2 separate regions of the Homo sapiens genome follow, and region 1 is linked to region 2. Evidence: fine-mapped expression QTL. A gene starts in region 2. The other region holds a variant in brackets. All regions are shown on one strand. Distances are between the middles of the regions. Region 1 overlaps ZNF274 (zinc finger protein 274). Region 2 holds the start of ZNF274 (zinc finger protein 274).

Region 1 (5,368 bases), 26 kb after region 2:
TCCTGCTGAGAGTCCCCTAATGAACATTGAGGTTGTTGAGGTCCTCACACTGAACCAGGAGGTGGCTGGTCCCCGGAATGCCCAGATCCAGGCCCTATATGCTGAAGATGGAAGCCTGAGTGCAGATGCCCCCAGTGAGCAGGTCCAACAGCAGGGCAAGCATCCAGGTGACCCTGAGGCCGCGCGCCAGAGGTTCCGGCAGTTCCGTTATAAGGACATGACAGGTCCCCGGGAGGCCCTGGACCAGCTCCGAGAGCTGTGTCACCAGTGGCTACAGCCTAAGGCACGCTCCAAGGAGCAGATCCTGGAGCTGCTGGTGCTGGAGCAGTTCCTAGGTGCACTGCCTGTGAAGCTCCGGACATGGGTGGAATCGCAGCACCCAGAGAACTGCCAAGAGGTGGTGGCCCTGGTAGAGGGTGTGACCTGGATGTCTGAGGAGGAAGGTAAGTAGAAGGGTGGGTAGAGGGACAGCTTAATGAGGGTGTCTTGGAGTACCCTGTGGGGGAGATAAGAACTCCAGGCTTCCTAGGAAGGTCATGGGAAGGATTGTGTCCGCTCCATACAGACCAAGGACATCCATGTTGCCCACGTGTTCCTGAGTCAGAGCCACTGAAACCCTTGCATTCTTTAGCCCTTCGTGGGCTTCTGATGGAAGCACACAGATGAAGTGCTTCATTTTTATCCCTCTGGCATCCCTGCTGCACCATAAGCCCTGTAGCACTTGATAAGATAGATGGGAATACTGAGCTCAGAGAGCCCGCAGTAGCAGGAGAGACAGGGATTTGACAAATGAGAATGCATAGAAAAATGCTGGGACTATGAGGAGCTCGAGGTGATGGTGAGGCTTATGAAGGTCTGCAGCTGACACCTGGTGTGGAGTGGAACTTGGCCAGGGTAAAGAAAGGGGGCAGGAAAGATGTGCCATGCAGAGGGGAGCACTGCCTGTAAGGGCCAAGATGGAAGGGATCACAGTAAATGCAAAACTCAGAAAAATCGGTTATGTTTGTGATGGAAGGGAGCAGAGGTTGGAGCTGGCACTGCCAGTGGGGACTTTAGTCCTAAAGCAAAGCAAAATGTTCTTCTAAAACAGTAGGGCTCGATCCCTGAGTTCCAGAAACTGGTGGCACCACTGGATTTGACCTTTAGAGATTTACCAGGCTGCATGTGTGGTGGATGGTGGACAGAGGATGGGGGCGAGGCTGGACACAGGCTACCCGCAGCTATTGCCATGCCCTCTGATGGGGTGGTGTCTTGGATAGGAGTGATGGTGATGTCTGACTGGGGAGAGACTACACGTGTGGAGTGTGTATTTGGGAATAAGACTGCAAGACTTGGTTTCTTCATCAGGCTGAGTTTCACAGAGCGTGCATGCTTCTGCATTGCTCACCTCCATTTTCCACATTTCACGGGTGCCCAGAAGATGTTTCTGATGTGAACGAATGATTGACTGGTTGATGTTTGTGATTGCAGGAAAGGGGAAGGTATCCTGCAGGGGGATGGTGGGATTCTAAGAGGCCAGGGCATCCTGGAGATCGGGTATCCGAGGCAGCAGGGCAGGCACTTGCATGAGTTGTGTCAGATGCACCAAGTCTGGGGTGCTGTACTTGGCAGAATAATTGCCCCAAAGGTGTCCATGTCCTGACTCCTGGACCCTGTGAATAAGTTGCCTCACATGACAAAGGGGACTTTGCAGAAACAATTAAGGATCTTGAGAGGGAGAGATGCACTGGATTATTTGAGTGGATCTAACATAACCACAGGGGCCCTTAGGAGAGGGAGGCTGGAGGGTCAGAGGAGATGTAATGATAGGAGCAGCTGATAGAGGAAGAAGCCATAAGCCAAATGTTTGGGGCAGCCTCTAGAAGCTGGAAAAGGCAAGGAATGGATTCTCCCTTGGAGCCTCCAAAAGGAACATAGCCATGCTGACACCTTCATTTTAGCCCAGTGAGGCACAAACCAGACTTCTCATCTCCAGAACCATAAGGTAATACATTTGCATTAATCTGAGCCGCTGGCATTGTGGCAATTCACTATAACAGCAATAGGAAACTAGTTAGTTAGGTGCCAAGGAGACAGTTGTGGGGTTAATGAGGTGAAAGTCAGTGAATTCACCCTGTGTTTAACCTCAGGGGTGAATAAAATAAATTAGTGCCACAGAAGACAATGGGAAGAGGCTTTCCAGAGAACCCTGAGAATCTCACATTATGTGATCAGTGTGTTAGTTGGGACGCTTG[A/G]GTGTGACTGCTGCAAAGCCTTGCACAGAATGGCTCAAGGGAGAAGGAGAATTTATTGGAAAAGTTCCAGGGTGCTCGAGCATCAGGCAGGGCTGGACCCAGGAGCTCCAATAGTGTCCTCCAGACTTGTCCTGTCCCTCATTCTTACCTCTTCTGCCCTCCACTGGCTTCATCATGGGCAGGCTGTCTCCCTGCATGGGATTTCTCTTTCCCAAATGTTCCAACTAAGGCCTTGTTGGCTCCAATCATCTGGCTATAGGCTGTGTTCATCCCAGATCTAATCACTGTGGCCAAGAGAAAGGGATGGTCCAGTGTGCCAGCCTAAGTCATCTTGTGGCCCACCTTGATGGTGGGGGTAGATTAGCATTGTGGAAGCCTGTGGACCATTTGGGGTCATGTGAGGAAGGTTAGAATGAAGGAGCCGTGGTTACAGGGGCCCTTGGGCCAGGTGGAGCTGTTGTTTTCTTAGGTGGAGGAGACTTGGTGACGTTCACCTCAAGATGGCTGCATTTCATGGGTCCAGGGAAAGTCTCACCTTCCATGAGGTGGGAGGAGAGAGGGAAGAAGGAAGAGGTGCCCAAATAGGCAGGGTGCAGGGCTTGGAGGCCGGAAACAGGGGCTTTGACTCTAAGGAGGGGGCGTCAGTCAGCTGCCTCACAGGAGGGGCTGGGGCCCTCAGCAGCCCCCGGAAAGGGAAGGAGTGGGACCAGAGTCTCAGCAGTGAGGACACTGGTGCCCTGTGACCCTTGGAGGGTGAGCCATCCCGGGCCCATCCAGGTGTGGGCACTCGGGCACGTGCTGTGAGGGGAGCAGAGCTGGTGGGAAGGGAGGACAGGAGCAGAGGCTGTCATGGAGCCACAGTACGATGCAGGGGTGCGGTGGCCCCATGGGTTGCAGAGAGGCCACCCTTGCCCTGCCTAAGGGTCCCCACACCTGCTGACCTCCTCTGGCTGGTGTCTCCTCCCAGTACTTCCTGCAGGACAACCTGCCGAGGGCACCACCTGCTGCCTCGAGGTCACTGCCCAGCAGGAGGAGAAGCAGGAGGATGCAGCCATCTGCCCAGTGACAGTGCTCCCTGAGGTAAGCGGGGAGTATCACCCTGTTTTGGTCACAGCATCTCCTGTGAGGCAGGCCCACCCCTGAGGCATCCACTCTGCCCTGGGCTTTCCTAAGACCTCCCACAGGCTGGGACATTCTGAGATTCTGAGCTCTTAGGTCTGTGCTGAAGCAATCTGAGTATGAAGAGCAGCCCTGCCCTCCAGCCACTGTGGCATCACTGGAGACAACGCATGGTGACCCGGGAGCTGAGAAAGCAGGAGGCAAGAGGGAAGGGACTAAGTGTTTACAGAGACTTGAGAGGTGGAACTACCACAGGCAGGCACATCTGTATCCAGGTCAGAACAAGAGAGCCCTCAACCTTCAGAAATGCATACTTAGGTATTTATCTTTGGTATCTGGGATTTGCTTCAGAATAACCCAGAGCTGGGGTGTGGGTGAAAAAGATTGGTCCTGATGCGCTGACCACTGGGGTAGTGGTATGTATGTGTCATTGGTCAGACCTGTTTGCACTGCAAATGGCTTATACTGGCTCAAGCGTAGAAGTCAATTTATTGGCTCTCATGTATTCTCTGGTAGGCTTCAGGCAAGGCTGCATCCAGGTGCTCCCAGGTGATGGGAAGAATCTCTGGCCAACCTGTTTCATGGCTCTGCTTTCTCCCCTTTCTTCTTCTTTTTTTTTGAGATGGAGTTTCACTCTTGTTGCCCAGGCTGGAGTGCAATGGCGCGATCTCAGCTCACTGCAACCTCTGCCTCCCAGGTTCAAGTGATTCTCCTGTCTCAGCCTCCTGAGTAGCTGGGATTACAGACAGCTGCCACTACACCCGGCTAATTTTTGGTATTTTTAATAGAGACGGGGTTTCACCATGTTGGCCAGGCTGGTCTCGAACTCCTGACCTCAGGTGATCCACCCGCCTTGGCCTCCCAATGTGCTGGGATTATAGGTGTGAGCCACTGCGCGTGGCCACTCCCCTTTCTTCTTAGGCAGATTCTGCCCCATGTAAGCAAAATGCCTCAGATCCTGGCAAAGCAGCGTTGGGGGTACCTCTTCTTCCCAAAGTCCTGGTCAGTTCCCCAGAAAGGACCAGTCATGGCTGTGCCAGGGTGACTGCCCTCCCCCAGGTCAGCCCTGTCGACAAAGGCAGGGGCTTGGTTGTCATTTCCACCAAGTGGGAAGACAGTATTAATAGATGGAGAACCCTCTGCAGTGGGAAGATTTCAGCAATGGGCAAGCTGGATAGAGCCGTGGTTAGGATGGAGTTGTTTGCTTGTTGCACTTGGAGCTCTTTATGAAGCAAGGGCTCTGCCTCCCAGCCTGAGACCCAGACCCTGGTTTGGACCCAGTAGAACTCTTGTGGGCCCTGGGTTGGTGTCTCTGAGCAAATCCCCAAAGCAGGAGAGTCCCTAGCACCGTGAGCTCTGTCAGAACCTCCCAGCTGGCCTTTCTTCTGCCCTCATTGACAACCCTCTGACCCTCTTGCTGAGCATAGACACATATGTGATGTTACAGGAGCCAGTGACCTTCCAGGATGTGGCTGTGGACTTCAGCCGGGAGGAGTGGGGGCTGCTGGGCCCGACACAGAGGACCGAGTACCGCGATGTGATGCTGGAGACCTTTGGGCACCTGGTCTCTGTGGGTAAGGCTGTGCCCCCTCTTCACCCACCTCAGGGCTGGTAGGCCACAGGAGCCCCAAGTCAGGGGTGTTCACCTTCTCTAGACTCCACACTGGGCATTCCCTCAAGGGGCCCTTGCTGCATCCAGGGCCTGTAAGTGGAACTGTAGACCTAGAGGGGTGAGGTCACTGGGTGGCCAGAAGCAGCCTTAGGTCCGGTGAAGGAGTGATTTGCTATCTATCTCCTGAGGGAGTATGAGAGAACAGGAACTCGAAGAGCTCGGAGGACACTCCCTGCCCTTCCTGTCCCTTGTTCACCAAGGTCAGTGCTCCCCTCCCTGCCGCTTCATTGCTTTTCAGTCTCTCTCCAGGTTGCATGACTCTATTTGGGAGAAAAAAAAAATCCTGACTTTTGAACTTAATTATGCATTTCATGCTCTCAGACCCATCCCAGCACATCTCTCT
Region 2 (5,368 bases):
ATGGCAAATCCCCATCTCTACTAAAAATACAAAAATTAGCCGGGCATGGTGGCACGCCCGGCTACTCAGGAGGCTGAGGCAGGGAGAATCACTTGAACCCGGGAGGCAGAGGTTGCAGTTGAGCCGAAATCACGCCATTGCACTCCAGCCTGAGCGAAAGAGCGAGACTCTGTCTCAAAACAAAAAAAAAAAAACAAAACATCTTTGGTCAGGCATGGTGGCTCACGCCTGCAATCCCAGCACTTTGGGAGGCCAAGGCGGGAGGATTGCTTGAGTCCAGGAGTTCAAGACCAGCCCTGACAACACACTGAGACCTCATCTCTACACAAATATTTATTAAAAATTAGCCAGGTGTGGTGATGCACACCAGTAGTCAGTCCTAGCTACTTGGAAAGCTGAGATGGGAGGAACACTTGAGCCCAGGAGGTTGGGCCAGCAGTAAGCCATGACTGCAGCACTGCTCTCCAGCCTGGGCAACAGAACAAGACCCTGTCTCAAAAACAAATTCTTTTAATCAAAAATCAGGTTTTATCCTATACCACATAAATAGAAAGAAATCATTAGAAGAATTTCCACCTGCCTGGGCAACATAGTGAGGTTTCTGTCTCTACAAAAAAGTACAAAAGAGGCCAGGCGGGGTGGCTCATGCCTATAATCTCAGCACTTTGGGAGGCTGAGGTGGGCAGACTGCCTGAGGTCAGGAGTTCGAGACCAGGCTGGCTAACATGGAGAAACCCCGTCTCTACTACAAATACAAAAATTAGCCAGGCATGGTGGCACACACCTGTAGTCCAAGCTACTTGGGCAGCTGAGGCAGGAAAATCGCTTGAACCCAGGAAGCAGAGGTTGCAGTGAGCCGAGATTGTGCCACCTCACTCCAGCCTGGGCGACAGAGCAAGACTCTGTCTCCAAAAAAAAAAAAGCCAGGTGTGGTGGTGTGCACCTGTCCCAGCTATTTGAGAGGCTAAGGTGGGCGGATCACTTGGGCCCAGGAGGTGGAGGCTGCAGTAAGCTGTGATCGCACCAATGCATTCCAGTCGGGGTGACAGAGCAAGACCCTGTCTCAAGAAAAAAAAAAAGAAAGAAAAAAAAGAATTTCCAAGGGGGTTTGCTTCCTTGTGATTATGAAGGGCTAGACGTATCCTATTCAAATCCAGAACAAAACAAGACTATTAGTAAACATGACTACTTAACATAGCTCTGTCATACTAGCTAGGACTATACAATGTTAATTTTTTAAAGTTGAAATATGGAAAAAGAAGATATCAAATTACTTATTAATTGGGGATGGTGTTGTATCTATAATAGACACGAAAAATCCAATGAAATATTATTAGACTATAAGATATCTGCACAGTCTCTGAGTAAATACTCCTATGCCAAAATCAACACACTAACAGCAACAATTAAACAATGTGTAGCCTGAGGTTGGATCCTCCACAGTGACCAAAAAAACCAACAACCCGTGGAACAAGTTTAGCAGGCAGTGTACACGACCACCAGAGGGAGGCAGAGGGCTGCTGAGACCTGCCAGGAAATATCAAGAAAGAGGACACAGGGTCCTGAGCACTGAGAGAGATCATTAGGGCCCTCAGGTCCCAAGAAGACAAGACCATACTGGGACCTGGGACCTAAGGAAGATAAGAAAACACCAGATGTCGGTCCTTGAGGAAGCCAAGAGAATACCTCCTTGTCCTGAGCTCCCAAGGAAGATGAGAGCACCCTGGGCCCAAGGATGGGTGGCACACACCAGGTCCTGGACAGCTACAGACTTAGGTTTCCTCTCCCTAGACATGAGCACCTCAGCTTCCAGGAGCAAACTGGACCACAGGGGGACACTAGGCAGAGGATCCTGCTCCTCCTCCCCAATGCCTGGGGTACAGTTAGCCCTGATCATCTCTCCAGAACTAGGGTAGACGTTTGGCCTCATTCCCATCACACTTGTGGTCCACCTAGTCTTCCCTCCTTCCCCTTGCACACCCCTGACCTTCCTACTCCCTTCCTCTAATCCCCAGAACTAGGGTGGACGTTTGGCCACGTTCCCATCACACTTCCGGTCCTCCGAGTTTCCCTCCCCTCCCTGACCTTGAGTGGACACTTGGCCCTGTCCACCCTCACTTTCAGGCAGGACCCATCTCCCAGAAACATAAGTGCCGTCAGTCCCAACTCCTGCACACTTCCGGCTCTCCCAGTCCTCCCCTTCTTTCTCGACTTTGAAACTGGTGGAACTTCAGTACCTCTCCCCACTCCCCCCGCGACTTCCGTCTTCCAGTCCCCCTCCTTCCCCAAAAGTTGCGTGGACTCTAGCCCCGCCTCCTACATTCTCCCCGCCCTCCCTGTCCCCGCCCCTCCACCCAGATGGACGGCCAGTTAGGCCCGCCCCCTGCACTTCCGGCCCTACCCGCCCTTCCTCTTCCCAAGGGACGTCATAATTAATCCCGCCCCCACCGCCACCCAACCAAGCATCACCCATTCCAGCACTTCCGGCCTGACCCCTGTCCAGCGCCTTTCCTTTCTCCAGCTTCTGCTCTGCCCCAAGAGTGGTCGCCTTCGTGGCAGGGCACGACTCTCTCCCAGCTCGGGTCGCCGCCCACATTAGTGTGGGGCCCTGCGGCCTAGCGTCCCTCACCAGAGGCCTCCCCTTGCCTAGCTGGACCGCCGAGGGACATCGACGAGTATCCTCCTCCTGCTGTCCCCGGCTTCGCCTGCCGCCCCTAACCGGCCAGTCAAGATGGCCGCCGCTGGGTGAGGCAAGCTGGCGCGCCGCGGGGGCGTCTGGGAGTTGTAGTTCGGGACGGCGGGCTGACGCACTTCGCCGCCGGCCGACGGGCGCCATTGTGCGGCGCGCGCCGGGTGAGTGCCGCGCGAAACCTGCGTCCGTCGGGGGCTGCGCTGGGCGGGTCCAGAACCGTTAGTTGGGGGCGAGCGCGGCCTCTGCATTTTCCGCCGAGCTCGGGTACCCTGAGCCGGCCGTGCCTGCAGTCCTCCCGCCGCTCTGTGGGATGGGGTCGGTGACCCGGAACCCCGAGGGGAGACAGTGCTTTCGGGGCGCCGCGGTGGAGAGAACAGATCGCCTCCGGAAGCGTGGGGTCTGGGCCAGGGAGGCGATCCCCTCCGATGCGCGGGACAGAGGAGGCTCGGTGTCCTCTCGGGGAGGGGAAAACTGGTCCTATCCAGTCCTGTGGGAGTCCTATGACTCACTCTGGGCGTTTTCCAGTTTGGGTGGACTTGTCATTTCCCGCTGAGGGAGCCGTTCCTGGGCGGAGGCTGCGGTAGCTCCCCAGCGGACACCTTAAGCCTCTCCCTCCCCTCCCAACTTCGGTTTCCTCAGGACTCTGCCCACTTCCACCAGAGACACATTGAGAAGGAGGAAACTATGGCCTCCAGGCTTCCGACGGCCTGGTCCTGTGTGAGTAGAGGCTTCCTTCAGCTTTTGAGTCCGCTACTGCACCTGGGAGGATGCGGATGGTGGTGAGATACCACCTTCCCTGAGATACCCCCATCCTCCAGAGCACCTCGGGGAGGGGGTAGAGATTGGTTGGGCATGAGAGATCCTGCGTGATGGTGGAACCGCAGGTTGCTTGGTTTTCCAAGGGTGTAGTTAGAATAGAGACCAGATTGTAGGGGCTTCTGAAGGCCAGGTTAAGGCTCTTGCTTGTATCCTTTATATTGGGAAGAGTAATTGACAGGTCTTTTGTTTGTTTGTTTTTTGTTTTTTGAGATGGAGTCTCCCTCTGTCGCCCAGGCTGGAGTGCAGTGGCGCGATCTTGGCTCACTGCAACCTCCGCCTCCTGGGTTCAAGTGATTCTCCTGCCTCAGCCTCCCCGAGTAGCTGGGACTACAGGCGTGTGCCACCATACCCAGCTAATTTTTTTTTTATTTTTATTTTTTGTGTGTGTTTTTTGTGGAGACGGGGTTTCACCATGTTGGCCAGGCTGGTCTGGAACTCTTGACCTAAGGTGATCCGACCATCTCGGCCTCCCAAAGGTCTATGCAGGGATCAGGCTTATGTTTAGATTTCAGCAGATAAATTGGCATCAAGCAAGAGGTGACAGCAGCAGAGTTCAATAACAAGTAGAAAAGACAGGTGAGGATGGATCCCTGACAGGTGAAGGAGATAGAAAGAAGCATCAGGGCCCTGGGTAGGGGCTGACGGCTTGGGTGTGATGGTGCAGCTCAGAGAATTCCCTAGGAGGCATACGCACCACTCCCAAAGTCAGAATTTTCAAATGAATAAGAAATAGGGGGCCGGGCGCGGTGGCTCACGTCTGTAATCCCAGCACTTTGGGAGGCCGAGGCAGGTGGATCACGAGGTCAGGAGATTGAGACCATCCTGGCTAACATAGTGAAACCCCGTCTCTACTTAAAAAAATACAAAAAATTAGCCGGGCGTGGTGGCGGGCGCCTGTAGTCCCAGCTACTCGGGAGGCTGAGGCAGGAGAATGGCGTGAACCGGGGAGGCGGAGCTTGCAGTGAGCCGAGATGGCGCCACTGCACTCCAGCCTGGGCGACAGAGAGAGACTCCGTCTCAAAAAAAAAAGAAAAGAAAAATAGGGCCGGGTGCGGTGGCTCACATGTGTAATCCCAGCACTTTGGGAGGCCGAGGCAGGCAGATCACAAGGTCAGGAGTTCGAGACCAGCTTGACCAACATGGTGAAACCCCATCTCTACTAAAAATACAAAAATTAGCCGGGCATGGTGGTATGCGCCTGTAATCCCAGCTACTCAGGAGGCTGAGGCAGGAGAATCGCTTGAACCTGGGAGGTGGAGGCTGCAGTGAGCCAAGATTGCGCCACTGCACTCCACTAGGAGACAGAGTGAGACTCTGTCTCAAAACAATAAATAAATAAATTAAATAAATAAATAAATAAATAAAATGGACAGATTTTCATATGCTACAGAGATCTCATGTGTTGCTCTCCTTATTGTAACCTGAATAGAGTCAAGCTTGGGTTTGCTTGGGGTTTCAGACAAAGACAGGAACTCAGGATGAGACTCCCAAAATGCCCTTGGGTCATCTTGTAGACCATTCTGTGCTTTCACTGGCCTGGTCAGCCTCCCCTGTCTTTCTTTTGTCGTGGATGCGGATGGCCTGTGGCTGAACAAGAATCTGGATTTTTAGGAACCAGTGACCTTTGAAGATGTAACACTGGGTTTTACCCCGGAAGAGTGGGGACTGCTGGACCTCAAACAGAAGTCCCTGTACAGGGAAGTGATGCTGGAGAACTACAGGAACCTGGTCTCAGTGGGTAAGGCTGGCCTCCAGGTCAAGAAGGATCTGTGCTTTGTAGCACAAATGTAGCACCTCTGAAGTATGTGTCTGCTTGGGCTCACACTGCAGGGGCACCAGTAGGAAAAGGGCAGCTTT

Evidence for each region. PIP is the estimated chance that this variant, and not a neighbour inherited with it, causes the effect. A credible set is the group of variants that fine-mapping cannot tell apart.
Region 1: its variant is the best candidate, but not a certain one, in a credible set for the expression of ZNF274 in thyroid (GTEx, PIP 0.72).

Annotation. Positions count from the first base shown.
Region 1 is chr19:58,206,760-58,212,127 of GRCh38, forward strand. It overlaps ZNF274 (zinc finger protein 274), which reads left to right. Exons shown (of 8, transcript NM_133502.3): 5 at 1-443; 6 at 3,202-3,314; 7 at 4,801-4,927. Among named protein-coding and RNA genes, the nearest start is that of ZNF544, 19 kb to the right of the region's middle. The variant A/G (reference allele first, on the strand shown) is at 2,235.
Region 2 is chr19:58,180,590-58,185,957 of GRCh38, forward strand. It overlaps ZNF274 (zinc finger protein 274), which reads left to right and starts at 2,472. Exons shown (of 8, transcript NM_133502.3): 1 at 2,472-2,853; 2 at 3,332-3,409; 3 at 5,123-5,249. The coding sequence starts at 3,377. RefSeq lists enhancers at 2,083-2,796, 2,465-2,884, 2,797-3,508, 3,135-3,324.